3 separate regions of the Homo sapiens genome follow, and regions 2 and 3 are each linked to region 1. Evidence: fine-mapped expression QTL. A gene starts in region 1. Each other region holds a variant in brackets. All regions are shown on one strand. Distances are from middle to middle.

Region 1 (2,757 bases):
TAGCAATGAAAAAAGGAAACTCCTCTCTTTCTGCAACATTATTTGAACTGAACCCCGAGGGCCTAAAGGATAATTTATCATGAAGGTCTTAGCTAAGTCTAGGCTGAGACAAAAGCATAACAGGCGGGGTTTCACCATGTTGGTCAGCCTGGTCTCGAACTTCTGACCTCGTGATCTGCCCTCCTCGGCCTCCCAAAGTGCTGGGATTACAGGCATGAGCCACCGAGCTCGGCCAACATGAAGTTCTTAAGGATGGAAGGAACCTGAGCGACAGTAGAATATGTCTGCTGTATAATAGGTATTCAGCTTATGTTTGATGAATAAATTGAGAAAATGGATAAACACAGTTGGGAAGTGCAATATTTTTAAAGAAAACTCCTGTAAAGTAGACCAACACTTTTGCAATAGTAATAATCCTTTATATTTGATCCCGTCTCACTAAGAGGCCTGGGCCCCTGACCCCTCTGACGTTTCCCCATCCCGGGTGCCGTGGGGCCTGCGGGCACCAGAAAGCCAGTGTCCCCGACAGGACGGCGCATCCTTCGCCTGGCCATTACCTCTTCTTCCTATCCCTCTTGTCCACGCCAGTGTCTCCAGGAGCTAAGATGTGCTCCACCCCAGGGACGTCGCCCGACCGGGCAGCTCTGTGGAGCTCGCCAAGATCTTCCAGGCGGACGTCGTGCTGGGGCTGGTCTAAGGCGCCCTCACCGTGCTTGCTCTCGCTGCCGACGCTGTTTTTCCACCAGCTGTAGGGGAAGCCCGAGGACCACTGGTCCCCCGGGTAGCCCAAGTACCACTGGTCCCCCTGGCTCCCGACGCTAGGGGTCTTCCTCGTGGCGTAGACTGCCGGCTTCGGAGACCCCTCAGCCCCTCCCCGCTTTTCTCCACCCCAGGAGGCCATCAGTAGCGAGCTACTGCCTCGGCCACAACCTCCCAGCAGGATAGCCCGCGGTTTCCAATCTGCGAAAGGAGGACCGCCAAGCCAGAAATGCCAAGCCAAGCGATCACTGCCACGCCAAGCCAAGCGACCACCGCCAAGCCAACAGCCACCGCAAAGCCTCGTGGGTAAGGCCAAGCCAATCCGTTACAGACCAGTGCGCCTGCCCACCTGTGACATCACGGAACCTGTGACTTCACTGCATCTGCAGCTCCAGCCTCCCAGAAAAAGACTCCTTGGCCTGCAGGTGGCGCTGCAGCTCCAGCCTCCCAGAAAAAGACTCCTTGGCCTGCAGGTGGCGCTGCAGCTCCAGCCTCCCAGAAAAAGACTCCTTGGCCTGCAGGTGGCGCTGCAGCTCCAGCGCCAACCTGGGCTGGCTGGTCCTCCCTCGGAGGTTTCGGGGTGGCGGTGCCCAGCCTGCCTGTCATGAGTGCCGCTTCACAGCGCCGCCGGCGCACCTGCTCCTAGGCTTGCTCGGTTCAGGGGTACGGGTCAGTTCCGCCCCCGGCTTGGCCACTGCAGCAAAGTTGCCCTAGGGTCCGCGCTGCCAGGACGCAAGCGGAGTCAGATGGCTGGGTCAGAGCGGCCTGTCAGCCCGGCTGGAAGGGCCTGCCCGACGCCGCTGCCCGCCCAGCTCCTACTCGGCCTGCGCCTGGAGCCAGGGACCAGCTCTGGGCATTCTGCTGCCTTAGGATGGGGCCAAGCAGCCGCTCCCCGCCGTGTGCCGCAGCCGCTGCGCGCATCTGCCCAGGGTCCGTGCAGCTGGCGACCCGGGCGGGTCGGGGAACGCCTGGTGCCACCAGGATTGCTCGCCTCTAGTCCGTCCTGACCCTTCAGCCCGCGAGCACCAGTGAGATTGAAGAAAAGTGACGGCCAGGCGCGGTGGCTCACACCTGTAATCCCAGCACTTTGGGAGGTTGAGGCGGGCAGATCACTTGAGGTCAGGAGTTTGAGGCCAGCCTGGCCAACATGGTGAAACCCTCTCTACTAAAAATACAAAAATTAGTTGGGCGTGGTGGCGCGTGCCTGTAGTCCCAGCTACTCCAGAGGCTGAGACAGGAGAATCTCTTGAACCCGGGAGGTGAACGTTGCAGTGAGCTGATATCGTGCCACCAAACTCCAGCCTGGGCGACAGAGCAAGACTCCGTCTCAAAAAAAGAAAGAAAAGAAGGAAGGAGAGAACGAAGCAAAGAGAAGGAAAGAAGGAAGGAAGAAAGGAAGAAAGAAAGGAAGGAAGGGTGACAAAGGAGAATCTAGAGAGCACTCAAATACTAATTCTTGAGGACAATTAAGACAGATAGCATTATGAAAAACAGATTTTGTCACTGAAGCCTCAGGGCTTCAGCCTAGATCCTGCGCTGCTCACCCACAGAAAGCCAATCACTGAGATGAGTATTGCAAAGGAAGAAGGCTTTAATCAGATGCTGCAGCCGAGGAGATGGGAGCTCAGTCTCAAATCCCTCTCTCTGACCAACTAAAATTAGGGATTTTTAGTATAGCAAAGAAGAAATGTAACTATGTATAAGAAAACATGAACTAGAAAGGCGTAAGGAAGCAATCATTTACAAAATATCTGTGGCCGGGCGCAGTGGCTCCCACCTGTAATCCCAACACTTTGGGAGGCAGAGGCAGGTAGATCATGAGGTCAAGAGATCAAGACCATCCTGGCTAACATGGTGACCCCTTGTTCTCTACTAAAAATACAAAAATTAGTTGGGCGTGCTGGCACGTGCCTGTAGTCCCAGCTACTCGGGAGGCTGAGACAAAAGAATCGCTTGAACCCAGGAGGTGGAGGTTGCAGTGAGTCAAGATCATGCCAC
Region 2 (2,757 bases), 100 kb before region 1:
CCATTTATCTTTAATCAGAAAGCCAGAGCATTATTCGTATGCTGCAGAGTTTACAGAGGCTAGGAGAAATAACATGAAACACAGAAACCAGAGCTGGATGAAATAAGGGCACAGAAAAGCTCACCATGAGAAGACAACACAGCAGAGCATGAAACATCACAGGGTACAACTCATTTACATCTGATCCCATGTAACACAGAGTTATCAGAATACCAAGTCTATACTTATCTGTCTCCTCCCTCATGGGGCCTTTTTATCTGAGATGGCAACAAAAGGAAGAACAAGCTCAAGAGTGTGCTGCTTTTGTTGAGAAGGCCCCTAATACCCACCCAAACCTTTGGGGTCCTGTTAATCAGCATGTTAGGCTGTGGAGCAAGAAGGAGTTAAGTGTAAGAAAGGAGAGAGCAAAGAATGGGCGGGGTGCAGGGATATGTGTTGGGGGTGGTGTAGAATGAAGGAGGAGAGAAGGAAGGATCTAGAGTGCAGCAGAAAAGAAAGAATTTTTCCCTCTCCATGCCTGGCTGCTACCTGACAAACAATCAAGAACCATAGAGCTGGGATCCTTCTGTTTGTCCCTCTAATGTATGGGAAGGTGGGTGAAGCATCAGGGTTATGAATGCTACCATAAGACTTCACACAGTTTATATTTGTGTCCCAAAGCAGAGCCCGGACCACAAGGCCCATACTGACTGCCTCTCTGTGGCAAACGTCACATATGTCCATCACCCACCCTATTTATTGCTCCTCACCCTTCCAGAGGTGAACTTCCTCCATGAATTTCCCTTCCTGAAACTCACGATGGGAACCTTAGGCTGCCTGGAATACAAATTGGCACAGCTCAAGACATGCAGCTTAGCATGGGTTTTCAGGCGAGACTTTTTCCCTATGTGAGAGTCACGAGGCTGTCAAATGCTGTTATAAACAAGCAAGGTTGGGTTTGATCATGCAGTTAAGGTTCTAGCACTGCATAATTATCCAGGCTAAAAAGCTCATTTAAAAAGGGGAACTTAGAGGAAAATTCTTTTTTTAGAAAAAGAAATCTGGCTTGGACTTGGGTTATAGACTTCTTTTTTGAGTACAAATTCTGTAGTAACAAGATATTAACTGTCATCATCTTTTGAACTGGTCACTCAAGGAAAAAACACGTGCTTCAAAAGGAAACGTGCTGTATCATCGTTGTTGGAATGAGTAGAAAAAGGGGTGTATCATATACGATAGTGTTTCCTTTCTCATGGCCAGTTAAATATTATCTCTATTATCTCTACCAGGAATACTTTATGGCCAACCACAAATTAGAGTAAGCTAGTAAAGAATGTTGAATTTTATTGACTATATTTTCTGGGGAACACAGGCTACAGTGCTAGAGGAAGACAGGGAGGAAAGATGGCTGATAAACAACATATTTGTGGACTGTACTGACAGTAATTTCTATTTATCAGTAAAAGTTCCCAAAGTGATAAAGATTCCCTTTACCTCTTGGGATCTATGCTTAGATCCTCTACTATTGTTTAAACAGTCTATGAATTACTTATAGGCACCCTCTTCTTTTTCAGAGTTGCTTTAAAGCTCATCTTAACACAAAACACAGGAAATGAAGTAATAGTCTTCATATAAGACTATTAAAAAAAAAAAGAGAGACAGGC[T/C]TAAGAATTTGTCTAGTTTAATTTTCTTTTTTTCTTTTTTTTTCTTTTTTTTTTTTGAGACAGGGTCTTGCTTTGTTACCCAGGCTGGAGTGCAGTGGCGAGATCACAGCTCACTGCAGCCTTGATCTCTTGGGCTCAAGCAATCCTCCAACCTCAGCCTCCCAAGCAGCTGGGACTATAGGTGCACAACACCACACCTGGCTAATTTGTGCATTTTTTGTAAAGACAGGGTGACATCATATTGCCCAGGCTGGCATCTAGTTTAATTTTCTACTGAGGAATCTGAGGTCCAAACAGGAGAGAAATGTAAAGGATAAGAGTGAGTGTCCCTGTATTTTTTTCTGATTACTAGGCATAATATTCATGTGGAAATTTTGGAAAGCAGAGAAAAATGTAAAAAGGCATGGAATCCTTTTATATTCTTAATACAAAGGCAACCACTGTCAAAATTTTGGCAGATTTTCTTCTGTCCTTTTTCCTAAATAGTATTTTTTTCAATATTGAAGGTATTATTTCCAGTATATGCAACTTTATGTCTTGTTTTTAAAAAAATGTTCACATATCATAAGCATGTTCCCATAAATGTTAGCAAAAACTCCTGGTAATCATTTTCAACAACTGCATTATAGTTTATCCAATGAATACACCATGCTTTATTTAACCATTCCTCTAATGTGAGACAAATATAAGTTGTTAATAACTTTTTACTCTCCTAAAAAATGCTATGATGATATTTGCCTGCAAATTATGGAGTAATTACAGAGTATTCTCCCCTCAGATAAATTCCTAAAAGGGAAATCACTGGAATAAAAAATATAAAACATATGGACAATAATCCCAATTTAAAAAGATGTTAATGTATATAAATAGAGTGTAAATAAAACAGTGTTGATGTACTGAAATATGAACTGTATAAAAAGTATTGGTAATTGTATATGGGGTGTACCTGTTTATCTGTAACTGTTATCCAAACAAATTAATTACTGTGGATGCCTCTATGTGCTGTTTTTCCTCATACAAGTAAACACAGAATGTCAAATTCTTCAGCTTCCCTCTCTGTGATCCTGTTTTAATTCTCCTACTTGAATAATTTCTTTCTGACTTACAGAGGGGA
Region 3 (2,757 bases), 140 kb before region 1:
GTCTTAAAAACAACAATAATCTTTTATATTTTTCATCTCTCATAGCTCTGCATGTTTTTTCAACAGTCTCTTGTTCTTGTTTCAAGATGCAATGGTTTCTCTGATCTCTTTGAGCCTATTAGTCCTGGCTCCAGCAGTGCTTCTATTTCTGTCATCAGCTCAGTTTCCTCAGTTCCTTTCTTGCTGTTTGTCTTGCCTCCATCTTTCATGCCAGAGGCTTTTCTCAGATGTCTGGTGGTCCTTGGTAGTTGTTCATATTTAAGAGTAAGTCACTGAGAAACTGATTGGAATATGTGTATATGTGTGTGGATAGCATGGGAGCTTGCCACTGGTAGGTCTCAGTATAGAGTAATCTGGTGGAGAATAGGCTGTTTCGTTGGGGGACAGTTATCTGTAGGACTTTTCTTGGGGAGGGTCTTCCTCAGAAGGAATACCTCTAATTCCCTGTCTGGATTGTAAAAGCTACCAGCTTTCTGGAAGCTGAGTGCGGGAAGGGGGCAGAGAAGGTCTCAGTCTCAGCTACTCTGCTACTAGTTGATTGCAGTTTATTGGCCCTGCTTGGTGTCTCAGGATTCAGAGTCCCTTTGGGGAAATTCTCAAGCATAAACATCTAGTTTCTCCTGGAGTAATCGTGGAGTGGTTGGGTTCAGACAAGGAAGGGAGAGAGGAGCTATAGCGGCCTCTGCTTTTTTTTTTCTTTTCCCGAGATGGTGTCTCGCTCTGTTGCCCAGGCTGGAGTGCAGTAGCACCATCTCGGCTCACTGCAAGCTCTGTCTCCCGGGTTCACACCATTCTCCTGCCTCAGCCTCCCGAATAGCTGAGACTACAGGCGCCCGCCACCACGCCTGGCTAATTTTCTTGTATTTTTAGCAGAGACGGGGTTTCACCGTGTTAGCCAAGACGGTCTCGATCTCCTGACCTCATGATCCACCCGCCTTGGTCTCCCAAAGTGCTGGGATTACAGGCATGAGCCACCGTGCCCGGCCGCCTCTCTGCTTTTTATATAGATCTCTAGCTCACCCTCCCATTTCTAGTTCACTTGTTCCTCACTGTCAGAGGTACCTGGTGCCCCCTATTCCAGAGACTTTCCAG[A/G]GTTCTTAAAAATTCAGAGTTAAAAAGTTCCAGAGTGTAAATATGCTTTGCCTCTTGGCTTCTCTCTGGGCAAGCACTGGGCTTTCTTTGTCTTTGTTTTCCAGATTCCAAAATTTGATTGCTATAATCTACTTTCCTGATCTCTTTGACCCCATGGATTTTATCCATTTACAATAATTTTAGTATTGGCACGGGGCTCCCCCATGTAGGGTGGTGCAGGGAGACTCACTAACCACAGGAGGTCCTGCCCGGGGCTCCTCCTTTACCCCCCTCCTTTTGGGGCAGGCTGGAGGGAGGGTCAGGTAATGCTGCTCACACAAAGCCTGCCTAGAAGTCCAGAGGTGGGGGGTACTCTGGGCCTCAGCTGTCAAGACTGGCAACCCTTTAACCCCTGATGACCCAGAAAATACCCTCCCTTAAAATGTCTGAGTACCACGCTTCTTTGGCATCAGGGAGGGGACGGGAGTGTGGTGTCCTCTAAGTCTGCTCCCTGCTTGGCCGGGCTGTTTGCAGCTCCTTGGTCACTGAGTCCTTGACTGCAGGGGAAGAGAGGTTGGCCTCAGGCTCCAGGTTAGGCCACGGTTCTGAGAACGGGTGTGGGGGATCAGGCTTATATTCCATGCTAGAGCTCTGGAGTTGGTGCGTGGGGTTGGGATGGGGCTGCAGAAGTGCCTTTTAAGATTATGTGCATGGACTGATCTGTCATTGGTTCCCTGCCATCCTTATCTTTTGGATTCCCCTCGGAGCAGGGGGAGGAAGGAGTTTCTTTTGGGTTCCACTGAATCAAATGAAAGGGAAAGTAAAGCTGTTCCTATGTCCTGGGCTCTGGAGCTTCTATTCCTGATCCCTGCAGAAGAAGGAGACGGTGGTGGTGGTGGGTGGGGGTGGCGGGGCACAGAGGAAGCAGGTACCGGGCCCTGCACCCCATTCCCACTCCCAGATCCCTCTGGACACAGCATTTTTCTCCAGTGAGCACAGCCTTCCCTTGCCCCACAGCCAACAGCAACATGCCTCCCAACAAAAGCATCTGCCCCTCAGCCAAAACCCCTGTTGCCTCTCTCTGGGGAAATTGTAGGACTGGGTCAGGGTGGGGGGACCATTCTCTGCAGGGAGATTAGGAGTGTCTGTCAGGGGTGGGTGGAGCGGGGTGGGGCCCTGGCTTACTCACATCCTCGAGAGTCCTTTGCTGGCAGATTTGGGGAGCCCACAGCACAGGTGTCTGTCTCAGTATTGTCTTCCAAGCTCCTAGGCCACAGTAGTGGGGGGCTCCCCTCTCTGGCTTCTTCTTTGGTGACAGTCAAGGTTGGGGGTGGGGTGAGAGAGGTCCTGCTTCTCTTCTAGGAACAGTTGATCCCAGGAAGAGCAGTGGAGCCTCCAGCAGGGGCTGTTGGGGCCTGTCTGAGGAGATAGGACGTGTCAGGCAGCCCCAGACACGACCACATTCCTCCCAACATGCCTGCTGGGGTCTGTGGAGCCCAGGGGCTGATGGGAGGGTGGGGTGGGGGCCGGAAGGGTTTGCTTTGGGAGGTTGTCTGGGAGATTGCTGAACTTTTGATATACACACCTCCAAAGCAGGACCAAGTGGACTCCTAAAAATGTCCCCTGACCCTTGGGGCTTCAGGAGTCAGGGACCCTCGTGTCCACTTCAGCCTTGCCCTTGGCACA

The links. PIP is the estimated chance that this variant, and not a neighbour inherited with it, causes the effect. A credible set is the group of variants that fine-mapping cannot tell apart.
Region 2: its variant is the best candidate, but not a certain one, in a credible set for the expression of CCDC144A in tibial artery (GTEx, PIP 0.64).
Region 3: its variant is the best candidate, but not a certain one, in a credible set for the expression of CCDC144A in subcutaneous fat (GTEx, PIP 0.87).

The regions. Positions count from the first base shown.
Region 1 is chr17:16,688,545-16,691,301 of GRCh38, reverse strand. It overlaps CCDC144A (coiled-coil domain containing 144A), which reads right to left and starts at 1,061. Exons shown (of 17, transcript NM_001382000.1): 1 at 558-1,061. The coding sequence starts at 901. RefSeq lists an enhancer at 1,168-2,071.
Region 2 is chr17:16,792,632-16,795,388 of GRCh38, reverse strand. It overlaps the pseudogene USP32P1. Among named protein-coding and RNA genes, the nearest start is that of FAM106C, 5.1 kb to the right of the region's middle. The variant T/C (reference allele first, on the strand shown) is at 1,644.
Region 3 is chr17:16,823,705-16,826,461 of GRCh38, reverse strand. LOC105371552 (a long non-coding RNA gene) reads right to left here. Exons shown (of 3, transcript XR_934251.1): 2 at 2,261-2,490. Among named protein-coding and RNA genes, the nearest start is that of FAM106C, 36 kb to the right of the region's middle. The variant A/G (reference allele first, on the strand shown) is at 1,093.